Linked DNA regions of Homo sapiens: regions 2, 3, 4 and 5 are each reported to be linked to region 1. Evidence: microRNA targets listed by miRTarBase, many of them from high-throughput screens and not tested one by one. Region 1 holds a microRNA gene; each other region holds the end of a gene's coding sequence.
What was found. The annotated mature microRNA hsa-miR-4295 reads CAGUGCAAUGUUUUCCUU and lies in region 1 at 2,962-2,979, opposite strand. An mRNA with a match to its seed (bases 2 to 7 or 8) in the 3' UTR can be bound and repressed. Matches are read on the target gene's strand: a 7mer-m8 pairs with bases 2 to 8, a 7mer-A1 pairs with bases 2 to 7 and ends in A, and an 8mer does both.

Region 1 (5,103 bases):
CCTTTTAAAAAAAGAAAACAAAACTAAATAAAAGTTAGGAATAAACAATTTCTAATGTTTCTATTGGAACCATTCAAAAAAGCCTTCATGTCATTATTTAAGTTAAATATATCTGTCTGGTTAAGGCTATTCTGAGATAGAATGAGTTGACAGAGGCCTCTAGGTTCTAGAAGAATAGACTGGCCTTCTGATACATAAGAAATGTGAAATGTTTCCTCTGATCTATCTATATCCATGACAATGAATCTTAATGACTGTTTTTTGTTGTTGGTTGTTTCATTTTGTTTTGCTATGGTTGTTTATTTTCTCTTTACTTTGGAAGAGAATAATTGATCTCTAGCATTTAATTTATACTGACTGCACCCTCTAGTAATACACCAAAGAACAAAAGATACTACCTCTACACTTGAAGTTTTTTTTTTTTTTTTTTGAGATCGAGTCTTGCTCTGGCACCCAGGCTGGAGTGCAGTGGTGCAATCTCAGCTCACTGCAACCTCCGCCTCCCAGGTTCAAGCAATTCTCGTGCCTCAGTCTCCCAAGTAGCTGGGACTACAGGTGCGCACCACCACATCCAGCTAATTTTTATATATTTTTTTTAGTAGAGACGGGGTTTCACCATGTTGGCCAGGATGGTCTCGATCTCTTGACCTTGTGATCCATCCACCTCGGCCTCCCAAAGTGCTGGTATTACTGGCATGAGCCACTGCACCCGGCTGGAGTTTATAATCTATTTGACAAAATGGGATACTCACCATACCCACCCATAACACACCATCCAATGGCAGGAGAAAATTAATGAGCTATTACAATAGGTAAAAATAACAAGTAATATTAATTGCAATTGTATACCTTTATATAAAGCCCTGGTATTGAATGTCAACTATGTGAGTTGATGAGCTCAAGATTATTGGTCTACAAAGTGCCCTTATATAAAGATTTATGGGATGGCAAAGTTTGTAGTGAAAGAGTCAGCCTTGACTTTGACAGGTATTCATCCACAAATGCATCTGTGCAGAGTGCCTACTGTGAGCAAAGCATTCAGAGCCCAACCCTCGGATCTCTCTCCCTTGCAGGTGCTGCCTCATCTCAACCCATAATTATTGGCAGTTCAAGTTCTTACTTTGTATTTCTTTCCTACATTCTCCAAACAGTCTCCTTTGAGATCCTCATTCACTTTCATGGTTTTTAAATATCATCTCTGTTTCTATGCTTAATCTGTTAAAAACTATTCCAAGTTTTACTCCCCATTTCCTATTACATGCTGGGTAGTTCACTCATCCCTTAAATTCAGTGGGCATGAATAAAAATCACAGCTTCTTGCTATGTGCCTCTTCCCATCAGCTAAATGTGGGCGAATCAAGTGGGTCTCTTGGGACTCACACATATCAACTCAGTTTGAATCTTCCTTTATTTTGCTTCCCATTTTGAACCAGTCATCGGGTTTTCTCAAATCTTTCTTTGAATTATCTCTCATACTTGTTTCTTTTCCATTCCTACTGTTGTAACCTCTCACAAAGACCAGTGCAAAAGCCTCTTAACTGGTTTCCCTGTCTTCATTGTCTACAACCATCAGTACGTCTCGATTGTTTGATCTTTCTAAAATCTTCCTAAAACACCACTCTGGCCATGCTCACCAAGAAAAATCCAAGGTTTAAGCCAGCATTTAGAACCTTTCAGAATTTAGGCCTAAATACTCTTTCAGGCTTCTCTCTCAATTCTCTCTGGCATATATTCTAGACTTGGCCACCTCTGAGCTTTGACCCTTGCGGTTCCCTGTCTGGAATGCCTCTACCAATCTCCAATCCGTACAATCCTGCTGACTGCTCACGGTTCTGCTAAAACACTACATCTGCCATGAATTCTGCATCTGCCTTTACCAAAGGGATCTTTCTCCTTAAATTCCTCAGCACGCTGTCTCATCTCCACAAGATTTACATGCCTGCATTATCCTCTTTACCAGAGTAAAAGCTGCTTGAAGGCAGGAAATGTGTTATCTTTTATTCCCCCCAAATAATGAGCACAGTGCCTGGCTCATATTATGAATAAAGGCACCTCCAGCCCCAGCTTTCTGAACTTTGCAGTTACAGGCAACAACAAGGCAGTGAAAACTCCGGCAAATGTCCGTAGGAGACTCCTAGAATTAGCTCCTCTAATGCTCCTCTGTCTGCCTATTTTAACAGTTAAGGAAGACACAGAAAAAATGTTGGCCACTCAGTCCAGGATTCAACCCCAGAGTTTATTTATTATGCATGTTTATGTATTCAGATTGTGAAGGAGGCAATGGGCATGGATTGTAAATTGATGGCAAACTTAATGAAAAGCAGACAAAACAGTGTAAGAAGGCTTAAATGCCTTTTAGAACATGGCAGATATATAAAAAAGTCATAAGAAAGTTTACAATAAAGAAAAGAATGTGGAAGAGTGAGAGTCAAAAAAGATAATTACGTAGAAGATTTTTAAACAGCTTGTCTAATGGAGATGCTGAGTGATTAAGACAAACAGCTTGCCAAACCACCTTGTCACAGGGACATAAATCTGAAAAAGCAGCAGACTCCTCAGAAAGGTCAGACAGATCACATTTAGTTTCAAAAGGAAGAAAACATGAAATTCGTGTGTGTGTGTGTGTGTGTGTGTGTGTGTGTGTATGTGTGTGTGTGTCTGTGTGTGTGTGTATAACCACCGAGAGGCAATGGTATGATATTGATAATCTTTGGAGAAAGAAACCTTCTGTATTGTCAAGTGACTTAAAACTCGAGGCACAATCCAAAACAAGAATTAAATAGCACAGCATAGTGTAGTCAACACCATATGAGAGGGTGCCTTCAGGGCAACACACACTGCTGCCAGAACACCAACCAAAAAATGGACAATCAGGATCTCAAAAGAGATGAGTCACCCAGAGGGTCTCTGTAGGAACAGTCTAGTTTCTTAGCCTTGAACCGAAGTGGTCTTGCCACAGGCAAGGAAAACATTGCACTGTTCCACAAAGTCAATTCTAAATGCATAAGCCATTGAAGCATATTTCTTATGGAATAAAGACTGAGGAGAAATAAAGGTTGAGTAATGAAAGTAAAGATGCAACAAAACTTTTAAAGTGGCCAATCTTGCTCATATAATGCTTGCAACCAAAAGGGAAGAAAGCTCTATTACTCTGGGAAAAAGGTGTTTGGATACACCACTAAAATAGGAAGCCTAAAAGAACCATTGTTTTATAATTCTGAGTTAACTGTGATCCTTTTTCCTTTTTTCCGTTTGTTAACTGATGGTATTTTCTGGAGTGAGTCATGACTTTTTTTTTTTTTTAGTCTAGAGCCAACTTGATAATGCTATTTAAATAAATTAACTAACTAAACTGCAAAGTATAAGCTCTTATGCCCATAAAATAAGAGAAGAACTGGGAAGTTCACCAACAAGGATGAAATAGGAGAGGCATTTAATAAAATTTGGTGACAGAGTCAGGGTAAGGTAACTCTCTCAGTGACACATTTATGTAATGCTAGTCTTCTCTGCATGGGAGACATTACTTTTTGGGGGCAATGCCCTTTTCCTCACCACTGCTTTTCTCCAATCTCTTCTTTGACTTCCTTTTGGGATCCCTGGGTATCCTGCTGTGTTGTTCCAGCCCCGGTGTTTTGCCTGCTATCTCTTTTCAATGTCTGAAGATCAATTATCCCTTCGTGCTAGCATAGGGAGGACAGAAATTCTGGGGACCACAACTTTTCCATTATACTTGAAGGAAAAAAGCAGCTCTCTCCTGTAAGATGGAGAATTCGGAGGTTTCCTCACAGGCTTCTGGTGATGCTTAAAGCAGAGAATCAACCTACAGGGTTTTAGCACAGTGCCTGGCACATGCGGAGTACTCAAAGGATGTGAGCTAATCTTCTTCTTACTATTATTATGTAAGTCCCGTAATTCTCTATGACCCACTATGTGTTCCAGATGATGCCGAAGACCTAGAAAAGTGGCTTTCATCACCATCAGACCTCTCCTCTCCTTCAGACCTCTCCTCTCAGGACTCACCATGTTGGTCAGGCTGCTCTCAAACTCCTGACCTCGTGATCTGCCCGCCTCAGCCTCCCAAAGTGCTGGGATTACTGGCATGAGCCACCACGCCCAGCCCAGACCACCTTTTTGTAACAAATATTTCACACAGGATTTTTAAAAAAGAAATCAATATAATGCCCTAGCTGTAATATAAATACAGGAAAATAACTTACAACAAAATAAGAAGTATTTCTATTTGTAAATACCCAGGCATTACTATACTAATAGATACAACTAAGTAAGTACATGCTTGTGCCTATACAACTGTCACATGCATGTACAATCAACATGCATGTGACACTACATATGCAAACCAATCCACAAGCACTGTAATGACAGCTCAAATACTACAAGTCGCATTACCATGAACACTGTACTCACCCAACTTTCCACCTGTTCCTCTTCCCTAACCCCCTTATGGTTAGGTAGGACTATATGACTATTTCTGGCCGGTACACTATAGTCAGAAGTGATGTACCTCAACTTTGGGTCAAAATATTGATGAGCTGGTATGTGAATCCCGTCTATCCCTGCCCGCAGTGGCTGGCAACGATCCCCATGGTGGAGTCTGGATGCTTGAGTAAGTGGGGCAGAGCCCTCTGTCAATGCTTGATCAACTTTTAGCATAAATAAAAAAGAAACCTTTGTTGTGTTAAACCACCAGAATTTCTAGGTTAATTTGTTACTGTAGCATAATCCTGTCTATCCTTCAATGGTAAAGAACTCTTTTAAAATAAACCCTGATTTTACACAATTATTGTATACTTGGAAAACTCCACATACGTTCAAGCCACACAAAAATACTTTGTGTTCATATGGAAAACTACGTTCAGATAATTATAAATAGGGTGTGCACCTTCACAAATGACCAGCAGGACATTTGAGAGTTTGTGCAGGATCAGGGAGTGTTGTAAAAGACTACGCAATACATTCCAGGATGTTTATTACCCTTGAGTTATCACTGAGATAACCAAAATGCCCCAACAAAGGTTCAAAATGTCCCCTAGGGAAGAATACTACCCCAACTGATGGACACTAACTTGGAGAAAAGATCAACAT
Region 2 (5,103 bases), not on the chromosome of region 1:
TATGCATTGCTTTAACAATACATGTGATGTGTCATATTACAGATGGGGTCACAGTGGTTATAAAGAGTTATACCCTGAAGAATTTGAAACAGACAGGTAAGGAAAATAGGCTTACTGAAAGAAACTAAGATGGTACAAAATCTGTATTATAAATTGATTTCTTAACTTTTACGAAGAATATACTTGCCATCAAAAATGTAGCTAGAGAAACAATAGGTGATTTAGTTAGGAGGTGATCCCTGTTTTCCCATTCTCTGGTTGATGTTTGGCATGTCTGTAAGCATTTTGGTTTTTATATATAGTATTCCATACAGTAACTCAGTATGGCAGCTTAGAATTTTTACCTTCATTTTAAAGATGAGGAAACAAAAACTCAATGAGAATATTAAAGTGTTAAAGTATACATTAAAGTGCTTATTTAAAATTCAGATGTTAACCTCAATTTTTTAATCTAGAATGCAAAATATTAAAATAATACGCTTTTTTTTTACATAAAAGCTTCTATTTTTTAACTTTTCTTATTAGTAGTGATCAGCAAGATATTACCAACGGGAAGAAAACATCTCCCCAGGTAAAGTCATCTACCCATGAATCCCGCAAACACAAGAAGTCAAAGAAATCCCACAAAAAAAAGCAGAAAAAAAGGTCACACAAAAAACAGAAGAAAAGCAAAAAGGAAGCCACAGATATAACAGCAGATTCCTCGAGTGAGTTCTCAGAAGAAACTGGGGCTTCTGGTACAAGGAAAGGGAAACAACCACATAAACGCAAGAAAAAATCCAGGAAAAAGTCTCTCAAAAAACCTGCTTTATTCTTAGAGGCAGAAAGTAACACTTCACATTCAGATGATTCAGCATCCAGCAGTTCTGAGGAAAGTGAGGAAAGAGACACTAAGAAAACCAAAAGGAAAAAGAGAGAGAAAAAAGCCCATACCTCTGTAGCCAACAATGAAATACAGGAGAGGACAAACAAACGCACAAATTGGAAAGTAGCTACAGATGAAAGGTCTGCTGAGAGCTCAGAGGATGACTAAATGGGAAACACTTTTGTTTTCCACATGACTGTGGATATTTACAGTTCTTACTCCTTGTGGTTTTGCCAGTGACTCTTGTTCAGCACGGGGCCTGAGGTCAGAGCTGTCTTGTGCCATCTGTATGTTCTGACAGACGTCTTGTCTTCTATTTTGGCGTTAAGCTTGATCCCCTTTTCTTGTTAAAAGGGAATCTGGTATTTTGTTATGAAGGTTTCTTGAAGAGATTATTTTTTTTTGCAATTAATTACGTTTAGTGTAGAGTGCATATACAGCAAATTAAAGGACCCAGAAAGCTGGATCCAATAGTGACCTGGGTACACCAATCGGAATATTGAATTTGGGGAAGTCAAGGGCTGGGATCAAGAGGTGGATTGGAACTAATGCCATGTAGGATGGTATGACAAGGCAACACTGTATTGCTCTCTGTTTATATAGCAGGTGTCACAACTAACTTGTCTTTAGCCTTGGTGCTTTGATCCTTCTATATTTTGACCCCACAGGTGTGGTCCGGTTTACTTAATCAGGACATGGGCCTAAGAACAAACCTTTTCCCTTCATGATAACATCCATAGACAACTTATTAGAAGGGACTAGAGTTTTTGCAAATTTCCCTGCTGGATGGGGCCTATAGCTATACTTAGTATATGCCTAAACATGGTAATTGGATAGTAAATGGTTTTCTAGTTCCATTGCTGTATATTTGCCTAAATGGACTTGTGTTCAAATTATTTCTTCAATTGTCATAGATAATCCTGTACCAAATGGGGAAGAATTAGGAAATAATCATGTTGTCTAATGGTACTCTGGATTCAGGGCAGCAACTGCCATTTAAATGTTGTCTTGTTCATTTCTAAATCTGTTCATGAAGTTTAGGTTTTCCCTGAAACTAAGTTGAATTATTTCCAAAATGAAACAGGCTTCTCAGGGACATATCCACTTCTTCCCAGTCTGCCTTTGGATTAAAGCACCAAGCAGAGACCACATTAATTCCCTTTGCTATACTGTGATCCTTAGTATGTTAATTCTTAAGAAACCAACATATCACTGAAAGAAGGCTGGCAGAACGCAAGTGCATTTTTTCACTGTGGGAAGAAAGATCAAGTGACGTATTATTTTTTCCTGGTTGTCACTTAATGGGCTGAGTAAAAAGCTTGAAAACTCAGACTTTCGGTCTTGGTTCTGCCACTCATTGGTTATGAGGAGGCCCAGAGCAGGTAAGTTCACCTTCCTGGCCTTACTTTCCTGATGTGTAATACGGAATTACTTCACAGTAGCATGACAGTATAAGACACCAGCAGTAGATACAACTATGATGACATTCCATGAGTTGGTATTTTTAGTTCTAACTGCTAAATTTGTTCTCTTTACGGGACAGATTTCTAATAAAGTGCTTGGTCTTAAAATACATGGTTGGACAGAGGTGCCCTATCCCTTAACTATGAGCAGGTGCTACCTTTTGGGATATTTATTTTAAATTTTAATACTTTGGTACTCAATTGTCAGTGTTCCATGGTGTGTATTTTTATTTTTGGGATTAGTGGGGGTCTAAAGGGAGAAGAATAGTCTCTAATTACTACCTCTTAACCTAAAGCAATTATTTTGTTCCTGGAGCAAGTTAAATCTTTGTTGGAAGGAGCTTTGGCCATATATTTTTTAGCATGCATTGTTTCTGTGCCCTGAAAGTACCTGAAAGGTTTTAAGCACAGACTCAGGAAAATGTGCCAGTAGAACAGGCCATCTCCAGGAAATTGGCTCTATTTGGGTCCTGACCTTCCCTTCCTCCCAAGTTAGCAGGCTTGTTCTTTCGCAAGGAATACACATCTTGCCTTTTTTTTTTTTTTTTTGCCATGTTTTCCTTTTCTTGGTCATGTATAAGCAATAAAGCTGTTTTTTGTTCTTCATCTTTCTTAACCCCAAATTTTCTTCTATGCCTTAGGCTTCGATGGTTCTTCCAACCCCCTTAATATGGCTTAGGGTGGTTTTTCAAAACCTACAATCCCCCATTTGCACTACTGGCCATGGAACATTTATTTCTAGTGTTCCTGCCAATCAGAGATCTCTATATTAAATTCTAAAATGGGATTAAAAGAAGAGTTGGAGAATTCACACTTATTGAGTAACTGATGTCATACAACCTGGAATTTCTGAATTCCAAATAAATAAATTTCACTCTTTGAACATTTCATCTTTTACTTTTTAGCACCAACAGACTTGATAACAGCCTGATGCTGATCTGACAATGGGTTGATAGCCTTCCCCCACTGACCCTTAAATCTGCTTAGTAACAAGTCCTTTGCTTCTGTCATTCTCCTGGGGGATGGCCTACTGCCCTCCTTTCTGTACAATCTGGGCAAACCGACTGGTGATGGCAAGAGTGGTGTCAATGAAGCGGTCTACACAGCTGGAGAGACAATTTTCAGTGCGAGAGTCTAGGCGATTCCCTGGCTTCTCCACACATTTATCCCAACATAACTCCATGAAGTGATGCACCTAAAAGGAAAGAAAAATAGTAACCATTGGGGTCTGCAGATAGGCCTAACTCTTGTTTATTAACTTCTCACTTTTTGACACCTGACAAAACCATTCTTTAAATCAACCACGGAGTCACTTTGGGCTCTTCTCTTTCTTCATTTCCTAATTAGTCACCAATATTGATCCAGATCCTCGTCCCTACAGATTGTACATTCTCAGGTAGGACTAATAACCTTTTATATTCCCCAAAGTAGCTAGCACCATTGTGAACCAACTAGGGAACCAATTAATTTTCCCAAACTATTGCACTCATTTTATTCCAAACCTATCCCCTAGACAAGGTAATTCTTCCATTAACCTTTTGGGGGTTATGGATCCACTCCCCAGAAAAATGCACATACAGGCACAGAAATTATGTGCACTGTCATTAGAATGTTCAGGGCCCAAAGATTTCTAGCCAGGGTTCTTGCTGGTCATCCGAGCACCCTCTTCCTCCCACCCAAAAGGAAAAAACCATTTTACCAAGAGCTTACTATTTGTGAGGCTGGGTACTAAGAAATCAGTTCTCTCTAAGGTCCTCAAGGATAGCTGTCATCACCTCCCATTTAAGAGGCGTGATTATGTAGTCCAAGGTCATGTAGCCAGCAAGAAGTCAGGCCGCGTTAGAACCATGTCCGAAGGGCTCCAAACCCTTGTTCTACATCCATAGTCTACAGCGACTACTTCAGAGTCCACCTTCCTCCGATAATGTTCTAGTCGTTTTCAAATACATTGTCGCATATGATCCTCACAATCCAGTGAGGCAGTGGGGTGACGGCGACACCAAAACCCACAGTGGATGAGTATCTTTTCTACGGGCACGTGGCCTGCAAGGAGCAGAGGGAGGATGAGAACCCAGATCTTTCGAATGCCAGCCCAGTCATGTCGCCGGCTAACTAGTCTCCCGTACCCTTGCGTCGCCCAAATCTTCCCTGTTTTACACCTTTTCTTTTCTCCACGCTACGCTTATATACCTGGCACCTGAGCACTACCGGTCACCAGGGACAGGAGAGCCATAACTTTGTCTTTCGTGAGGGGAATGGGATGCAGCCGGGATCGAGCACCAGTGAGCCGCCAGTGTACAGACCTCCGAGCGTGCCCAGGACCACCAAGGAAGGTGAAACTTCCTTTCCCTTCACCCTCCCCGTCCCCGCACCTGTGCAGTAAACTGCGCCTTCTGCTGCTCGGCGGCCACCAGGCGCTGCAACTCCGCTTCATCGGCTTCGCCCAGCTCCGCCATTGTTCGCCTCAGGCTCGCCACCTTCCGACAGCTGTGTTTGCGCATGCGCGACGGGTGTGCACCGCCTCTCGACTTCCGGTTCACCCAGCATTTCCTCTTCCCTGTTTTCTTTCGTCGTCGTGGGTGGGAATTGTCGCCTAAGTGGTTCCGGGTTGGTGGATGACCTTGAGCCCTCAGGAACGAGATGGCGGTTCTCTGGAGGCTGAGTGCCGTTTGCGGTGCCCTAGGAGGCCGAGGTGAGGGGTCTTCCCACCCTGAGGTGCTTAGCGTAGCCTCCAGCCAGGGAAGGGGATGGAAGTGAGGACTCATCTGCCGGGTG
Region 3 (5,103 bases), not on the chromosome of region 1:
CCAGCCTCAGATGGGCAGATTGTTCCCAGGGTCCAAATCGTATTGTTTTCTTTCTAGAAAGGAAGAGAGAAGGAAATTCGGGAGGGGTGTGCGGGCTGGTAGGCAGAACTTGTTGAGCTTTTCGCCTGGGTTCCCTGCTCATGACCCAAGCTTGTCCCCCTGGCGGACTTTGGAAGACAGGAGTTGGTGGCTAAACCGCTGACTTTTCTATTGCAGACAACATAGGCGGCCCGGAAGGCAAAAGGGCCCGGACGGCCTACACGCGCTACCAGACCCTGGAGCTGGAGAAGGAGTTCCACTTCAACCGTTACCTGACCCGCAGAAGGAGGATTGAAATAGCACATGCTCTTTGCCTCTCCGAGAGACAAATTAAAATCTGGTTCCAAAACCGGAGAATGAAGTGGAAAAAAGATAATAAGCTGAAAAGCATGAGCATGGCCGCGGCAGGAGGGGCCTTCCGTCCCTGAGTATCTGAGCGTTTAAAGTACTGAGCAGTATTAGCGGATCCCGCGTAGTGTCAGTACTAAGGTGACTTTCTGAAACTCCCTTGTGTTCCTTCTGTGAAGAAGCCCTGTTCTCGTTGCCCTAATTCATCTTTTAATCATGAGCCTGTTTATTGCCATTATAGCGCCTGTATAAGTAGATCTGCTTTCTGTTCATCTCTTTGTCCTGAATGGCTTTGTCTTGAAAAAAAATAGATGTTTTAACTTATTTATATGAAGCAAGCTGTGTTACTTGAAGTAACTATAACAAAAAAAGAAAAGAGAAAAAAAAACACACAAAAAGTCCCCCTTCAATCTCGTTTAGTGCCAATGTTGTGTGTTGCACTCAAGTTGTTTAACTGTGCATGTGCGTGGAAGTGTTCCTGTCTCAATAGCTCCAAGCTGTTAAAGATATTTTTATTCAAACTACCTATATTCCTTGTGTAATTAATGCTGTTGTAGAGGTGACTTGATGAGACACAACTTGTTCGACGTGTAGTGACTAGTGACTCTGTGATGAAAACTGTGACTCCAAGCGGTGTGTCCCTGCGTGCCTTTATAGGACCCTTTGCACGAACTCTGGAAGTGGCTCTTATAAGCGCAGCTTCAGTGATGTATGTTTTTGTGAACAAAGTTACAAATATTGTCCAAGTCTGGCTGTTTTAAGCAAACTGTGATCAGCTTTTTTTTTTTTTTTTTTTTTTTTGTATTTGTTTTTAAGGAAAAAATACTGACTGGAACAAAAAATAAACTTTCTATTGTAAGTTCTCTTGGTCTGGTTTGTGCCAAATAGTGAGCGGCTCTGTCTGCTTTTCTGTCTGTCTGTGCAGTCTTGGAAGCTGTTGGGTCTGAGGCTACCTGAGCAGATGACCTGTGCAGGGAGACCTCATACCAACACTGTCCCATCGCTTCCCTACCTCTGACCCATTGCAAAGTTCAGGGCAGAAGGTGGAAAAAGCTGTAGGCTGTTCCAAAGCCCCAGAACACCCTGTCCATCTCTGAGGAAACCAAGTTAACTTGCTGGGTACAAAAAAGAGAGAAAGAGCAAGAAAAAAGGAGAAAAAACCCAGGGCTTTGTTAGCCGCCCTCAGGCCACACAGATCCTGCCTCTTTCCTAAGGCTGTCCTAGGCCTCCACTTGCTGAAGACGCTGCTATGTCTGTCTGTGGACCCCAAACCCTCTGCCCTTAACCCATCCCAGCACCCCTTCCCCACTCTTCACCCGGGACCCAGTTGGCTTCTTTTGCTACAATTAATTTGCTACAAATTGAAGGTACTTACCCCATCCTAGCTCGATTGGGAAACTCCTCAGAGCAGCTAAAGCGCAACTAGAGATTTGCACATTTACCGACTGCTTACACTGATGCCGTCTTTCCTTTTAAAAGTTATAAAACAGTAAACTTTATAAGCCCCAGTTCCGGCTATATGACATTTGGGTGCCAAATGAATAGGGTTTTGTCTATGAATTAGATCGTAAAATCATCCATAGCACAGACAGATCGGCTCACTGGCTATAAAACGTCACGTGGGGCCATTAAAGTAAGTTTTATGGTTTTGGGGAGTTGACATCCAACATTATATACCACATAACATATAATCTCACTAACGCTGGACTCCATTTGACTCTTTTGCAGGCTACGTGTGCCGCCTGGCCATTCAAACTGTCAATTTTAGGTCCAGAAGTGTCCAAACCACAAGTTCTCAAAACTCTCTGAAAAATGGCTCCCTCCGAGTTAAGGTAAGCTCGCCTCCTGAGCGCTTTCAAGTTTATTTGTACTTTGGAAACTTTCTCTCTCTCTCTCTCTCTCTCTCTCTCTCTGGTTCAATAACTCAGGCTGCCTCTGAATTCGAAAAGGCAGAGCAAACTTTCCCTCTGCCCAAAAGAGCAGCGCCAGGAGCCAACTCTGCGGAGGCAGCAGAGTGAGCAGCGCCTGTGGCCGCGCCGCATCCCCAGGCCTAACTTTAATTGCAGCACAACCGCGGATGTTAATGACTTCCGCTGCTCCCGCCGGCGTGCAAAAAGATGATTTTTGTGTGCGAATGGGCCTGTGTGTGGGGACCTGGCAGGGCCGCACCCCCAGTCCCCCGCGCAATTGCTGGGCCGGCCGGGGCCAGCTCCTGGGGGTCGCGGAGCCCTGGGGTCGGGGCTGGGAGACAGTGGGGCGCCGGCCGCGGGCGCCGAGGGCCGCGCTGCGCTCAGGAGTTTGAAAGAAAGGCCGGGGCAGGGCCGAGGCGGACTCTGGCGGGATTCCTTACGGGGCTGTGGCAATATGTCTTCGCGGGCCGGGGTCATTTGGCAGGGCTGAATTGAGGCGGCGGCCTTCGGGGCCGGGTTTCAGGCTAGCTCGCGAGAGCGGGAGGGTGGCAGAGGCCGGCGAGGCTGGGGCTGCACCTCCAGGCTGGGCCCCCGGGTTGCAAGGTGGATCCTGGGCTGCTAGCGCCCACTGGACCCTGAGGACCAAGGATCCCCACCCTGGTGTGGGGGGGTGTTCAGGACCCCCTCCCCCGCACCCGGGACCAGGCCCTGAACCCTGTTTGCCTGCATGTTCTTTTTATTTCGGCGGGACTGTTCTCAGCCGCTTGTGAGTCTGAAGCAATAAACTTTATGGCCGGATTTAACTTTAGTCTTTGAATCCCCAGGCTAATTGAAAGGGGTTAAAGCGCTTTCTTTTCTTCCGCTTTGCCTTTCTTCTCCCTCTCTTCTTTCCTGTTCCTCTCCTTCTTTGTAGAATTAAAAACATCTACGCACAGGACCCTCAGAAGGCAACTTAGGCGGCCCCCTGGATAACATTAAGATTGGAGAAATTCACTCCCCCTCAACATACAGGCGAATTCTCTGTTCCAAACTGTGCTCTAAAGTTTTGGGGGAAATTGAGGTGTCTTCAGTGCCCAACTTAAAAGTCCCCAGAGCCATTAGGTTGTTTTTCCTGACACATCATAAACGGTAGTTTAGGGAAGAAATTGGTCCTTTGTCAGTAGGAGATTTCCGCCTTTCTTTTGTTAGTTGCTCTTTCTGTTTGATCCCAGGAAATTTACATAATCTATGATTTCCAGAACAGTCTCCAAAATTGCACCAATGGGTGAAGTAAGGTGAAATAAGTTTATCCTGGGCACAATTCCATATTGGCCCCAGTCACCCCTTCTGGCCCCAACCCCCCATATTCTTCAATGGCAAAACCCAAGCCCAGTGACTGGGGACTGTGGCCTGTCCTGGGATCTTTTTCTGGATGGGTACCCACAAGGGACCCAGTAGATTTCCTCCAATCCTATTTTAGGAATTAAGCCAAATTCTCCTACTGCATTCAGAAATGAAACAAAAAATAGGATCTGCTTTTCTCCTTAGGAGCTGGGCAGTTTTCAGCAAGTATTAATTGGTAAAGATACCTATTAAGTGCTTAAAGTGAAAAAATTGAAAGTATAGATTTGGAATTTCAATAAACTTATTGTGCAGAGGCCACCTACACTCAACATAAGTCCAACAGATGTCCCTAAAGTCAGAGGTCCAGAAAGCAAAACCTAGAAAGTTTTTTTGAAAAATCAAAACCCTCCCACAAGTGCTACTTCTCATGAATAGTGGCAAGGTGAAGAATCCTGAAGTCATTGTGTGTAACCTATTAAAGTAAACATTGGTATTTCAGCATTCAAGAAGATGTGTCCACATCTTAGTGGGAACAAGGATATAAACTCTACATGGGTATGGGTTCTCTTTTATAATGTTATGTGTCTGTGAGAATACTGGATTCCTTGTTTTGCTGCTCTGAATTTTGGGCTCCTTATTGGAAAATATTGCGTTATGGTTCCATTTTAGTTACTGATTTGGTGATCTTGCTTGAGTGATTTCTTGGTGATTGAAATTAGAAAAAAAAAAGAGTGACGGGGATTCTGCCAGTTTAATTTGAGTTACTTACACAGAAAATATCCACACTACTTCATGGCCATATTCCACCCTGGGGTGTGGGAATGAGCAGAAAGCCTGTTGAAGTCATATCCAGTACCACAGAACATAGAGAATCTTTCCAAGGAATGAGAAAAATTACAGGCTGTAAATATTGTCAGCTTGCTTATTTCTGTCTGTTTTAATCTTCACAAAACTTAAGTAGAATTTAAGAGAGCAGGCAAACCCACATGGCCACATGGAATTAAAATGACTTTAAAAATACATCATGCAGTCAGACCTATGTGTTACTGGAAGATTTTTTTCTTTCTTCCTATTTTCATAGGAAGCATAATAAAGAGGATGGCTGGTTTTCTGCTCATTCTGTAGATAAGTTATTTCTTTTGTGGATTCTTTTGGGTTGTTCTTGCAGAGGAACTTACTAAGAAAAAATATGTCTGTCACTGAGGGCTTTATGAAGACATCCAGCCTCAGCCGGTGGCAGAAGTGCGTGTCTGTGCTCCTCCTCAGCGGCAATGTGCGGGGGCTCGTTTGTTCCCACAAGCTGAAGAGACAATATTTCTGAACTATAAATACAACAGGAAGCTTCTGGTCACACTTACTTAGTGGTTTGTTAGGGTTTCCATGGTCTAATTTCACAACATTATGCCAAGATTCCCTTTCTCCTGCTCTTTCCCCTGCTTCATTGTTGGCGGCTCTGAGAGAGCAAGACAGAATTTCCCACCAA
Region 4 (5,103 bases), not on the chromosome of region 1:
CACTGTAGCCTCGAACTCCCGATCTCAAGCGATCCTCCCCCCTCGGCCCGGGTAATTAAAAAAATTTTTCTTAAGACAGGGTCTTGCTATGTTGCCCAGGCTGATCTCAAACACCCGGGCTCCAGTGATCCTCCCGCCTCGACCTTCCAAAGTGCTGAGGTTACAGGCGTGAGCCACTGCCCGGCCAGGTGCACCCTTTGTACAGGAAAAGGGGTAGGAAAGGCTTCGAGGTCCCTCTGAGCCCTCTGATCGCGTCCCTTTCCCACGCCAGGGCACACAGCATGGCAGAAAACCGAGAGCCCCGCGGTGCTGTGGAGGCTGAACTGGATCCAGTGGAATACACCCTTAGGAAAAGGCTTCCCAGCCGCCTGCCCCGGAGACCCAATGACATTTATGTCAACATGAAGACGGACTTTAAGGCCCAGCTGGCCCGCTGCCAGAAGCTGCTGGACGGAGGGGCCCGGGGTCAGAACGCGTGCTCTGAGATCTACATTCACGGCTTGGGCCTGGCCATCAACCGCGCCATCAACATCGCGCTGCAGCTGCAGGCGGGCAGCTTCGGGTCCTTGCAGGTGGCTGCCAATACCTCCACCGTGGAGCTTGTTGATGAGCTGGAGCCAGAGACCGACACACGGGAGCCACTGACTCGGATCCGCAACAACTCAGCCATCCACATCCGAGTCTTCAGGGTCACACCCAAGTAATTGAAAAGACACTCCTCCACTTATCCCCTCCGTGATATGGCTCTTCGCATGCTGAGTACTGGACCTCGGACCAGAGCCATGTAAGAAAAGGCCTGTTCCCTGGAAGCCCAAAGGACTCTGCATTGAGGGTGGGGGTAATTGTCTCTTGGTGGGCCCAGTTAGTGGGCCTTCCTGAGTGTGTGTATGCGGTCTGTAACTATTGCCATATAAATAAAAAATCCTGTTGCACTAGTGTCCTGCCATCCCACTGCCACTGATTCTTTCCTGTGTAAATTCTGTGTGTGCCTGAATAGGGATGGTAGGAAACGCTACAGGTATCTAGGTGAAAGGGGAACCCAAGTGTTTCTTGCCTCTATAGAGAGCATAGATTATGCTATGAGCAGTGTAACAAAACAGTACAGTGCAGAAACCCAGTCATCCCAATGTTTGTTTGTTTGTTTGTTTTTTGAGACAGAGTCTCACTCTGTCACCCAGGCTGGAGTGCAGTGGTGCAATCTTGGCTCACTGCAAGCTCCACCTCCTGAGTTCACGCCATTCTCCTGCCTCAGCCTCCTGAGTAGCTGGGACTACAGGTGCCTGCCACCACACCCTGGCTAATTTTTTTGTATTTTTAGTAGAGACAGGGTTTCAGCGTGTTAGCAGGGATGTTCTCGATCTCCTGACCTTGTGATCCACCCATCTCGGCCTCCCAAAGTGCTAGGATTACAGGCGTGAGCCACCGTGCCCAGCCCCAATGTTTGTTTTAAAGATTTTCGTCTTCTAGTTGGGTGCAGTGGCTCCAGCCTGTAGTCTGAGCTACTGGCGGAGGCTGAGGCGGAAAGAGTGCTTGAGCCTGGGAGTTTGAAGGTGCAGTGAGTTATGATCATGCCACCTGCACTCCAATCTAGATGACATACTGAGACCTAGTCTATGCAAAAAAACCACTTTTTTTTTTTTTCTGAGATGAAGTCTTGCTCTGTCACCCAGGCTGGAGTACAGTGGTGCCATCTTGGCTCACTGCAACGTTCGGCTCCTGGGTTCAAGTGATTCTCCTGCTTCATCCTCCCCAGTAGCTGGAATTACAGGTGAGTGCCACCACGCCCAGCTAATTATTTTTGTATTTTTTTAGTGGAAACACCATGTTGGCCAGGCTGTTCTCGAACTCCTGACCTCAAGTGATCTGCCCGCCTTGGCCTCCCAAATGCAAAAAATTTTTGAAAACTAGATGGGTGTAGTGGTTTGCACCTATAATCCCAGCTACCTCGTTAGCTGAGGCAGGAGGATCGCTTGAGCCCAGGAGTTCAAGGCTGCAGTGAGCTGTGATCACCGCACTACACTCCTCCAGCCTTGCTGACACAGCAAGACCGTATCTCAAAAAAAAAAAAAAAAAAAAAAAGGAAGCAAACTAAGACTTCAGGACCTTCTTAGTGTCAGGCTCCATGGTAGGGACTGACAAGTGGCTTCATTTAATTCCTGGACCTGCAGGGCCTACCTAGATGATACCCGGGCTTTCAGGTGCAGAGCCCTTCAGACCCTTTTTTTTTTTTTTTTTTTTTTTTGAGACAGCTTCACTCTGTCATCCAGGCTGGAGTGCAGTGGTGCGATCTCAGCTCACTGCAACCTCTGCCTCCTGGGTTCAAGGGATTCTTCTGCCTCAGCCTCCTGAGTAGCCGGGACTATAGGCATCCATCACCATGCCCTGCAATTTTTTGTATTTTTAGTAGAGAAGGGGTTTCACCATGTCAGCCAGGCTGGTCTCAAACTTCTGACCTGAAGCGTTCTGCCTGCCTTGGCCACCCAAAGTGCTGGGATTACAGGCATGAGCCACTGCGCCCGGCCTTCAGACCCTTCTCACTGGGCTGCTCCAGTGGCGAAGGAACCCCTCACTCCAAATAATTACTGGGCACACAGGTAATACTTTCTGTTTGGATATTTGTGGGATGACCTGATTTTTCATATTTATCAAACTAAAGTCAACTAAAGCAATGTTTATCAAAGCGGGTTGTGACCCATTTGTGGGTCACAGCTTCTTAAAAAAAGAAAAAGCCAGGCGCGGTGGCTCACGCCTGTAATCCCAGCACTTTGGGAGGCTGAGGCGGGCAGATCACGAGGTCCAGAGATCAAGACCATCCTGGCTAACATGGTGAAACCCTGTCTCTACTAAAAATACAAAAAATTAGCCAGGCGTGGTGGCACATGCCTGTAGTTCCAGCTACTCTAGAGGCTGAGGCAGGAGAATCGCTTGAACCAGGGAGGCGGAGGTTGCAGAGAGCCGAGATTGTGCCACTGCACTCCAGCCTGGGCGACAGAGCGAGTCCGTCTCAAAAAACAAAAACAACAACAAAAAAAATAAGGCTGGGTGTGGTGGCTCACGCCTATAATCCCAGCACTTTGGGAGGCCGAGGCAGGTCAGTCTCTTGAGCGCAGGAGTTCGAGACCAGCCTAGGCAACATGGCGAAATCCCATCTCTACAAAAAATATAAAAAGTTATCTGGGCATGGTGGCACAAAACTGTGGTCCCAGCTACTTGGGAGGCTGAGGTGGGAGGATGACCTGAGCCCAGGAGGGGGAGGTTGCAGTGAGCTGAGATCACGCCAGTGCACTCCAGCCTGGGCGACAGAGCAAGACCTTGTCTAAAAAAAGAAAAGAAAAAGAAAAAAGAACCCAAGTTTTAAAAAAAGTGCAACTTAAATGGTGGTGTTTTTATTGCAGATGTTTTTGTTTTTTTTGAGGCAGAGTCTCTATCTCCTAGGCTGGAGTTCAGTAGCACAATCTTGGCTCACTGCAACCTCTGCCTCCCAGGTTCAAGCGATTCTCCTGTCTCAGCCTCCTGAGTAGCTGGAATTATAGGCGTGTGCCACCACGCCTGGCTAATTTTTGTATTTTTAGTAGAGATGGGGTTTCGCCATGTTGTCCAGGCTGATTTCAAACTCCTGACCTCAGGTGATCCACCCACCTCAGCCTCCCAAAATGCCGGGATTACAGGTGTGAGCCACTAGGCCTGGCCAGCAAATTTTTCAGTTAGGCATGTGTGTATATATATATATATATATATATGTACTATAATAGGATGTACATTGTGTTTTTTACCGTTTGAGGTCATAAGAGTTTAAGAGCCTCTGATTTACAGGTTAGGAACAGAATTTCACTCTAATTCAAGGAAGGTAGTTTGGTTTGGAGGTCTGAAGATCAGTCTTCTAATTCATCAAAATCCCTTCCTCTGGCATCTGCGTATGAAATGGTCCCTATGTTCAAGGAGCTCGCCATCTAATTGGGAAGGTGGACACATAATTTTTTGTGAATGAGTAAGATGTGTGAGACATAAGAGTAGCAATGATAAGGAAATGTGGAGATGGAAAGGGCTAATAACTTCCTGGTGGGACCCAAAATGGTTTCACTCACCTTTGATCTGGGTGTTGAAGGATGTATAGGAGTTTGCCAGGCAGAAAAGAAGGGAGATGGCATATTTGGCAGAGAGATCACAGTGGGGCGGGGAGATGGGTGGATTTGGCTGGGAATGGTGGCCATGCCTGTAATCCCAGCACTTTGGAAGGCCGAAGAGAGAAAATTGCTAGAGCTCAGGAGTTTGAGACCAGCCTGGGCAATAGAGTAAGACTTTGTCTCTATCAAAAATTTAAAAATTAACTGGGCTTGGCGGTGTGCACCTGTGGTCCAGCTACTCAGGAGGCTGAGGTGGGAGGATTGCTTGAGCCCAAGAGGTTGAGGCTGCAGTAAGCCGTGACTGAGGGCTTGTGAAACAGCAAGAACCTGTCTCAAAAAACAGTGGGCAGGGAGGGGATTAATGAATAGGCAGCTACGTTCTGGGACTGGAGGGACTCGAGGTGGCTAGAAAGCAAGAGGTACTGGGAGACAAGGCTGCAGACATTTCTTTTTTTTTTTTTTTTTTTTGAGACAGAGTCTCTATCGCCAGGCTGGAGTGCAGTGGCGTGATCTTCGCTCACTGCAACCTCCGACTCCCTGGTTCAAGCGATTCTCCTGCCTCAGCCTCCCAAGTAGCTGAGTAGCTGGGATTACAGGTGCGCACCACCACACCCAGCTAATTTTTGTATTTTTAGTAAAGACGGGGTTTCACCATGTTGGCCAGGATGGTCTCGATCTCCTGACCTCGTGATCTGCCCGCCTACGGCCTCCCAAAGTGCTGGGATAACAGGCGTGAGCCACCGTACCTGGCTGGCTGCGGACATTTCTATCAGGCCACATCCTTTCCATCAGCCTGACTGCAAGGCTTCCTTGCCCGGGAGCCCCCCAGTAGCCGAGCGGGGAGCCGGCAGGAAGCTGGATGGAGCTGTGTCTCCCTGCACGTATGTGCTCCGGGCCTGAGCCCAGCAGAGGTGGTGGCAGGCAGCCTTTCCCATCTGGTTTGTTTTGGCAGTTCCCTCCTGCAGCCTATTTGTTTGTT
Region 5 (5,103 bases), not on the chromosome of region 1:
AGCCCCTGAGCACGGTCAATGACAGGACCTTCCCTCCTTCCGTTCTCCAGCTCTCCCACCCTCCCCTGCCAATGCAGGTAGTGCGACAGGGAGCTAAGGCGGTCACCTGACCAAGCTGAAGGAAACCAACCCACCCTAAAGTTAAGGTAAATCTTGGCAGATGTACGCTAAGGCCTAGGCAATTTTTTAAGGAGGCAAAGGTGATTTGAATGTTTGCTTACTTTTGTAAAAGAATAGTATATTTTAGATCTTTATAGAATGAGTTCTGAATTATGAATGCTTTCAAAACATCTATTTTGAAACAATTATACACTTACAGAAAAGTTCCAAGAACACACTTCACCCGCATAAACCTCTCCAAGTTCTCCAGTGGTTAACATTCCACCTCCTGGGCGTTCTCTCTCTCTGGGGGTGGAGAGAATGAATCTTTCTTCCTAAATCATAGAGCTAAGTAGCCTTCTTTAAAAGGTAAAGGAAAGGTATAGACCTCAGTTTACCACCAAAGCTTTTTTTTTTTTTTGAGACAGAGGCTTGTTCTTGTGCCCAGGCTGGAGTGCAATGGCGCAATCTCAGCTCACTGCAACCTCCCCCCACTGGGTTGAAGTGATTCTCCTGCCTCAGCCTCCCGAGTAGCTGGGATTACAGGCACCTGCCACTATGCCTGGCTAATTTTTGTATTTTTAGTAAAGATAGGGTTTTGCCATGTTGGCCAGGCTGGTCTCGAACTCCTGACCTCAGGTGATCCACCTGCCTCGGCCTCCCAAAGTGCTGGCATTATAGGTGTGAGCCACCGTGCCCGGCCAAGCTGGTCTTTCAAAATAAACATTCACTGTTACTCTAAACAAAATATAAAAAATAAATTTTATTTATGCATTTCAATACATTAAAGTTTGTTCCTTATACCTTTAAAAATGATACCCTGAAAGACAGCTGTTTAGTCATTCTATACATTAGCAGTTCTCAACCTGCATTGTAAAGTCCACAAGTTCATACATAACACTGAGCACTAAGCATCCTGCAGTATTTTAAGTGTATTTTCAATTGCACTGTAATAAATTTCAAAAAACCCCCTATATATTTAAAAGCAATTCTGAATTCATAGCTTTTAATCAAGATGTACTCATTTACTATTTATACGAAATTACAATTACTATCTAACAGCCCATATATGTTGGGTTTTTGTTTCTGCTTTTGAGAGTTTCACTCTTGTTCCCAGGCTGGAGTGCAATGGCACGATCTCTGCTCACTGCAACATCCGCCTCCCAGGTTCAAGCGATTCTCCTGCCTCAGCCTCCCGAGTAGCTGGGATTACAGGTGCCTGCCACCATGCCCAGCTAATTTTTATATTTTTCATAGAGACGGGGTTTTGCCATGTTGGCCAGGCTGGTCTCGAACTCCTGACCTCAAGTGATCCACCCGCAACCTCCCAAAGTGCTGGGATTACAGGCGTGAGCCACCGTGCCCAGCCCTGTATGTTGTTAAAATGAACAGACTTACAGGCAATCTGCCATGTACTAAATGCAAACCATAGCTAATAATTTAAGTCATACATATAACTCTCTAGCAAAGAGAGGTATTTTTGTTTTAATAATAAAATATAAAAATGGGATTGTTTATAGAAATTCATCTTTTGCAGAAAAATCAGCTTCAATTCTGTACCTCAAACATGGGTTACTGCATATGGTACATCATGAAATCAGGTGGTGCCACTGTCGTGATAGTTTTTCCCATCTTAGTAGCCGCACCCATAATTAATGCCTACTCACATCAAGTTAGCACCACTCAAATGTGGGCCATTCACAGGCAGCCAGGGATCCTCTTGGTCCGTGAGGTTGGGGGCTTGCATCAGAATGCAAATCTACCGAGGCGTGAAGCACAATTTAGTTCAACTGACATTTTTTCCTTCACAGTAAGACCTTCTGGAGGAAGGAAGCAGTGTGTTGATTTATACCTTAGCCCAAGCTCCTTATTTCACTATCAAGCTACAAGTCCAGTAGAACTGATCTGTTACATCCCAATCACCACCCAGCAAAGACACTCTTGTTAAAAAGCTCCTTAACAAAGGGAAGATTTTCACTTAATTCACTCTTCTCTTAGTACCTGTCACCTTATTTGTCCTCTAAATTCAGAACCTGCTAGAAGACATAGGGTTTGAATCTGGCTTCGGGTCGAATGATGTTGCTGAATGCAGGGTTAGAAGTCTGTAGGGACGACACAGTCTCTGTGCTGCTTTCAGTTACTTTCTGTATTCAGTTGTTCATGTTGCTTGCGCATGCTTCAAAGCTTAAACCATTAGTTTAGGGATATGCACAGATACTGATGACTTCACATCACGATTTCCAAACACAAACTGCCATAGGGTCGAGCTAAAATAAAATTTGAGGCCAGGCACGGGGGCTCACGCCTATAATCCCGGTGTTTGGGAGGCCAAGGTAAGAGGATCACTTGAGGCCAGCCTGTATAACATACGGAGATCTTGTCTCTACTGCTTGTGGTCCTAGCTATCCGCGAGGCTGAGGCAAAAGGACCGCTTCAGTCCAGGAATTTGATGCTGCGGTAACTATGATCGTGCCACTGCACTCTGGCCTGGGTGACAGAGTGAGCCTGTCTCTCTCTTAAAAAGTAAATAAATAGTATCTGAAAGTGCCACAAATGGGGCGTTTTGCCCAGGAGAGGCATCACCAGCACCTGTGCCCATCTGCCCAACGTGACCACTCTGAAGAGGACGGTGACTGCTGGACAGATGAGTTTTGGACATATATAACCTCTCAATGTCTATTCTGTATTCACATCTTAGTGACTTTTTTCAACAATCAAAGGTAAGATTTAAATTGAGTCTGTAGCATTTGAGAGAGAAAAGCAAAATTGAAGGGCTGAGAAAACAATAAACATTTGGGTATCTGCAATACATGCTGTTATCTAGGGACATTTCTGCTTCCTCCCAGAATCAGTTTTCCATACTTAGTGAGTGGGGTGTGTTTGTTTCTCCCACTAGACGGATGTTAATTCTTTGCAGGCAGTAACTATATTTTCTTCATGTTTACATCTCCAAATCCTTGCAAGCAAGTAGCACCTATTAACAGTCAAATAACTACTGTTTGGTGACCTCAGAGTTGTTTAAGATGGTACATTTACAATCTGGAATTGGTGAGGAGATGAATATCCTCAACTGTGTGAGAATGTTACATGAATGATGAAAAGCACCTGTCTGCATTACAGTGTACATAAGGCCATATCCACAGGGCTTATGTCGACTGACTTTGCCAAAGTTAATTGCAACCTAAATACTTAAAACAGTATCAAGAATCACATTTAAGCTGGGCGTGGTGGCTCAAGCCTGTAATCCCAGCACTTTGGGAGGCCGAGATGGGTGTATCACCTGAGGTCAGGAGTTCAAGACCAGCCTTGCCAACATGGTGAAACCCATCTCTACTAAAATACAAAAATTAGCCGGGCGTGGTGGCGTGCGCCTGTAGTCCCAGCTAAAGAGGCTGAGGCAGGAGAATCGCTTGAACCCGGGAGGTAGAGGTTGCAGTGAGCTGAGATTACAGGACACTGCACTCCACTCTGGGTGACAGAGCAAGACTCTGTCTCAAAAAAACAATCACCTTTAAGGGATGGTTTTTGAACTTCTAACCAATATTTTAAAAAGGTAAAAACCTCATCAATTTCTTTATAACTGCACCCTCTAGTGGCCTGTTTTATCTATTAATTTTTTTTTTTTTTTTGACAGTCTCACTGTCAAAAGTCTCACTGTCCAGCCCAGGCTGGAGTACAGTGGTACAATCTTGGCTCACTGCAGCCTCTACCTCCAGGGTCCAAGCAATTCTTGTGCCTCAGCCACCTCAGTAGCTGCTATTACCAGCATGTGCCATCATGCCTGGCTAATTTTTATATTTTTAGTAGAGACAGGGTTTTGCCCAGGCTGGTTTCAAATTCCTGGCCTCAAGTGATCCGCCCACCTTGGCCTCACAAAGTGCTGGGATTACAGGGGTGAGCCATCACGCTCGGCCATATCTATTAAAAAATTTTAAGACAATCATACACACCAGCCTCACTGCTTAGAGAACCCTGTCCAGTGTGCCTGACCCCTTTTCCCTCCCTCCTTCTCCTCTCACCCCCAAGATAGTTATTTGAAAATGGCTTGAAATACAAACAATAAAACCTTAGATCAAAAAAAATCTCAAAATATAATACATTAACAGACAATGATATAGCTCTACCAAACATTCACACGCAGGCAACAGAATAAGCCTTTGGGTTTACCAAGGACATTTTACAGTCAAAGGGCCACCTGCCCTCCTTCCTTCCCTGACTACATTCTCAGGGAAGCTTTTCCTTGCAGACACTTCGTTGCAAGGTCAGCTTTCTCTCTCAGCACGTTGGCTTCGTCGGCGCTTCTGTGGGCCTGTGCGTTCTTTAGCAAGAAGTGGCTGATGAAAAGCTTCAAACCCTCACGTAACACCCCCAGCTTTGGGTTGTCAGATACTCTGGAAAGGAATCGTATAAACACATGTCAGGGCTGAGCTGGCCTCTCCTAGATCTCAATCCTGGGTATCTCGCATAGTGAGACATAACCAGTTTCTTTTAAAAATAAAATTCTCAATTAAGAACTTCTTAACATATTTTATTATTAACAATCATTGTTAGTTTGCTAGCAGACAAGTTTCTATTCCCCAGATCTAATGCATACCAGCTTAAAAATAAAACCGAAAAGATTAAGCTACACGTATAGTACAACCTTGTGTTTGTAAATCAACACAAGTGAAAACAATCTCTTCATTTCTCTTCCATGTCTCGTCGGAAAGGGTGGGGCACATACCTTGTGAAAATTAAACTGAGGTCTTCAACTTCTGTTTCCATTAATAGGATACTTAATACTTTTCGTAAAAAACGGACTCTGGGTTTGTCCAATTCACTGAATTCAACTACCTAATGGTCAGGACATGGAGAAAAATAAAGTTACACTGATTTAGCCAACTTTTTCAATGATTTGTAATATAGTTAATTAGAGTAAAAATTAATCTCCCCCCTTCCCCCACTCTACCCGATTTAAGAAGCTATTTCCAGAGCTAAGAAATGAACACCTGTTGGCAAGGATGT

Region 2: the mRNA of NKAPD1 is a reported target of hsa-miR-4295. Seed matches in the 3' UTR shown: 8mer at 3,038-3,045.
Region 3: miRTarBase lists HOXA5 as a target of hsa-miR-4295. Seed matches in the 3' UTR shown: 7mer-m8 at 823-829.
Region 4: the mRNA of POP7 is a reported target of hsa-miR-4295. Seed matches in the 3' UTR shown: 8mer at 928-935.
Region 5: miRTarBase lists NOM1 as a target of hsa-miR-4295. Seed matches in the 3' UTR shown: 7mer-m8 at 1,222-1,228.

What each region holds. Positions count from the first base shown.
Region 1 is chr10:112,632,056-112,637,158 of GRCh38, reverse strand. MIR4295 (microRNA 4295) reads right to left here and starts at 2,989; the gene lies at 2,905-2,989. The region is part of intron 5 of VTI1A (vesicle transport through interaction with t-SNAREs 1A); the gene reads right to left. It overlaps LOC124902503 (a long non-coding RNA gene), which reads right to left. Exons shown (of 2, transcript XR_007062292.1): 2 at 1-5,103.
Region 2 is chr11:112,081,940-112,087,042 of GRCh38, forward strand. It overlaps NKAPD1 (NKAP domain containing 1), which reads left to right. Exons shown (of 6, transcript NM_018195.4): 5 at 43-96; 6 at 526-3,211. The coding sequence ends at 1,033. It overlaps TIMM8B (translocase of inner mitochondrial membrane 8 homolog B), which reads right to left and starts at 4,817. Exons shown (of 2, transcript NM_012459.4): 1 at 4,701-4,817; 2 at 2,861-3,523. The coding sequence starts at 4,784. The coding sequence ends at 3,356. It overlaps SDHD (succinate dehydrogenase complex subunit D), which reads left to right and starts at 4,934. Exons shown (of 4, transcript NM_003002.4): 1 at 4,934-5,020. The coding sequence starts at 4,969. RefSeq lists enhancers at 4,372-5,103, 4,935-5,103.
Region 3 is chr7:27,137,199-27,142,301 of GRCh38, reverse strand. It overlaps HOXA5 (homeobox A5), which reads left to right. Exons shown (of 2, transcript NM_019102.4): 2 at 217-1,250. The coding sequence ends at 467. It overlaps HOXA3 (homeobox A3), which reads left to right. Exons shown (of 6, transcript NM_153631.3): 2 at 2,116-2,219. HOXA-AS3 (HOXA cluster antisense RNA 3) reads right to left here and starts at 1,938. Exons shown (of 3, transcript NR_038832.1): 1 at 1,763-1,938. RefSeq lists an enhancer at 2,214-2,792.
Region 4 is chr7:100,706,550-100,711,652 of GRCh38, forward strand. POP7 (POP7 ribonuclease P/MRP subunit) reads left to right here. Exons shown (of 2, transcript NM_005837.3): 2 at 272-937. The coding sequence starts at 282. The coding sequence ends at 704. Among named protein-coding and RNA genes, the nearest start is that of POP7, 3.0 kb to the left of the region's middle.
Region 5 is chr7:156,968,916-156,974,018 of GRCh38, reverse strand. It overlaps NOM1 (nucleolar protein with MIF4G domain 1), which reads right to left. Exons shown (of 11, transcript NM_138400.2): 10 at 4,823-4,932; 11 at 843-4,490. The coding sequence ends at 4,316. Among named protein-coding and RNA genes, the nearest start is that of NOM1, 22 kb to the right of the region's middle.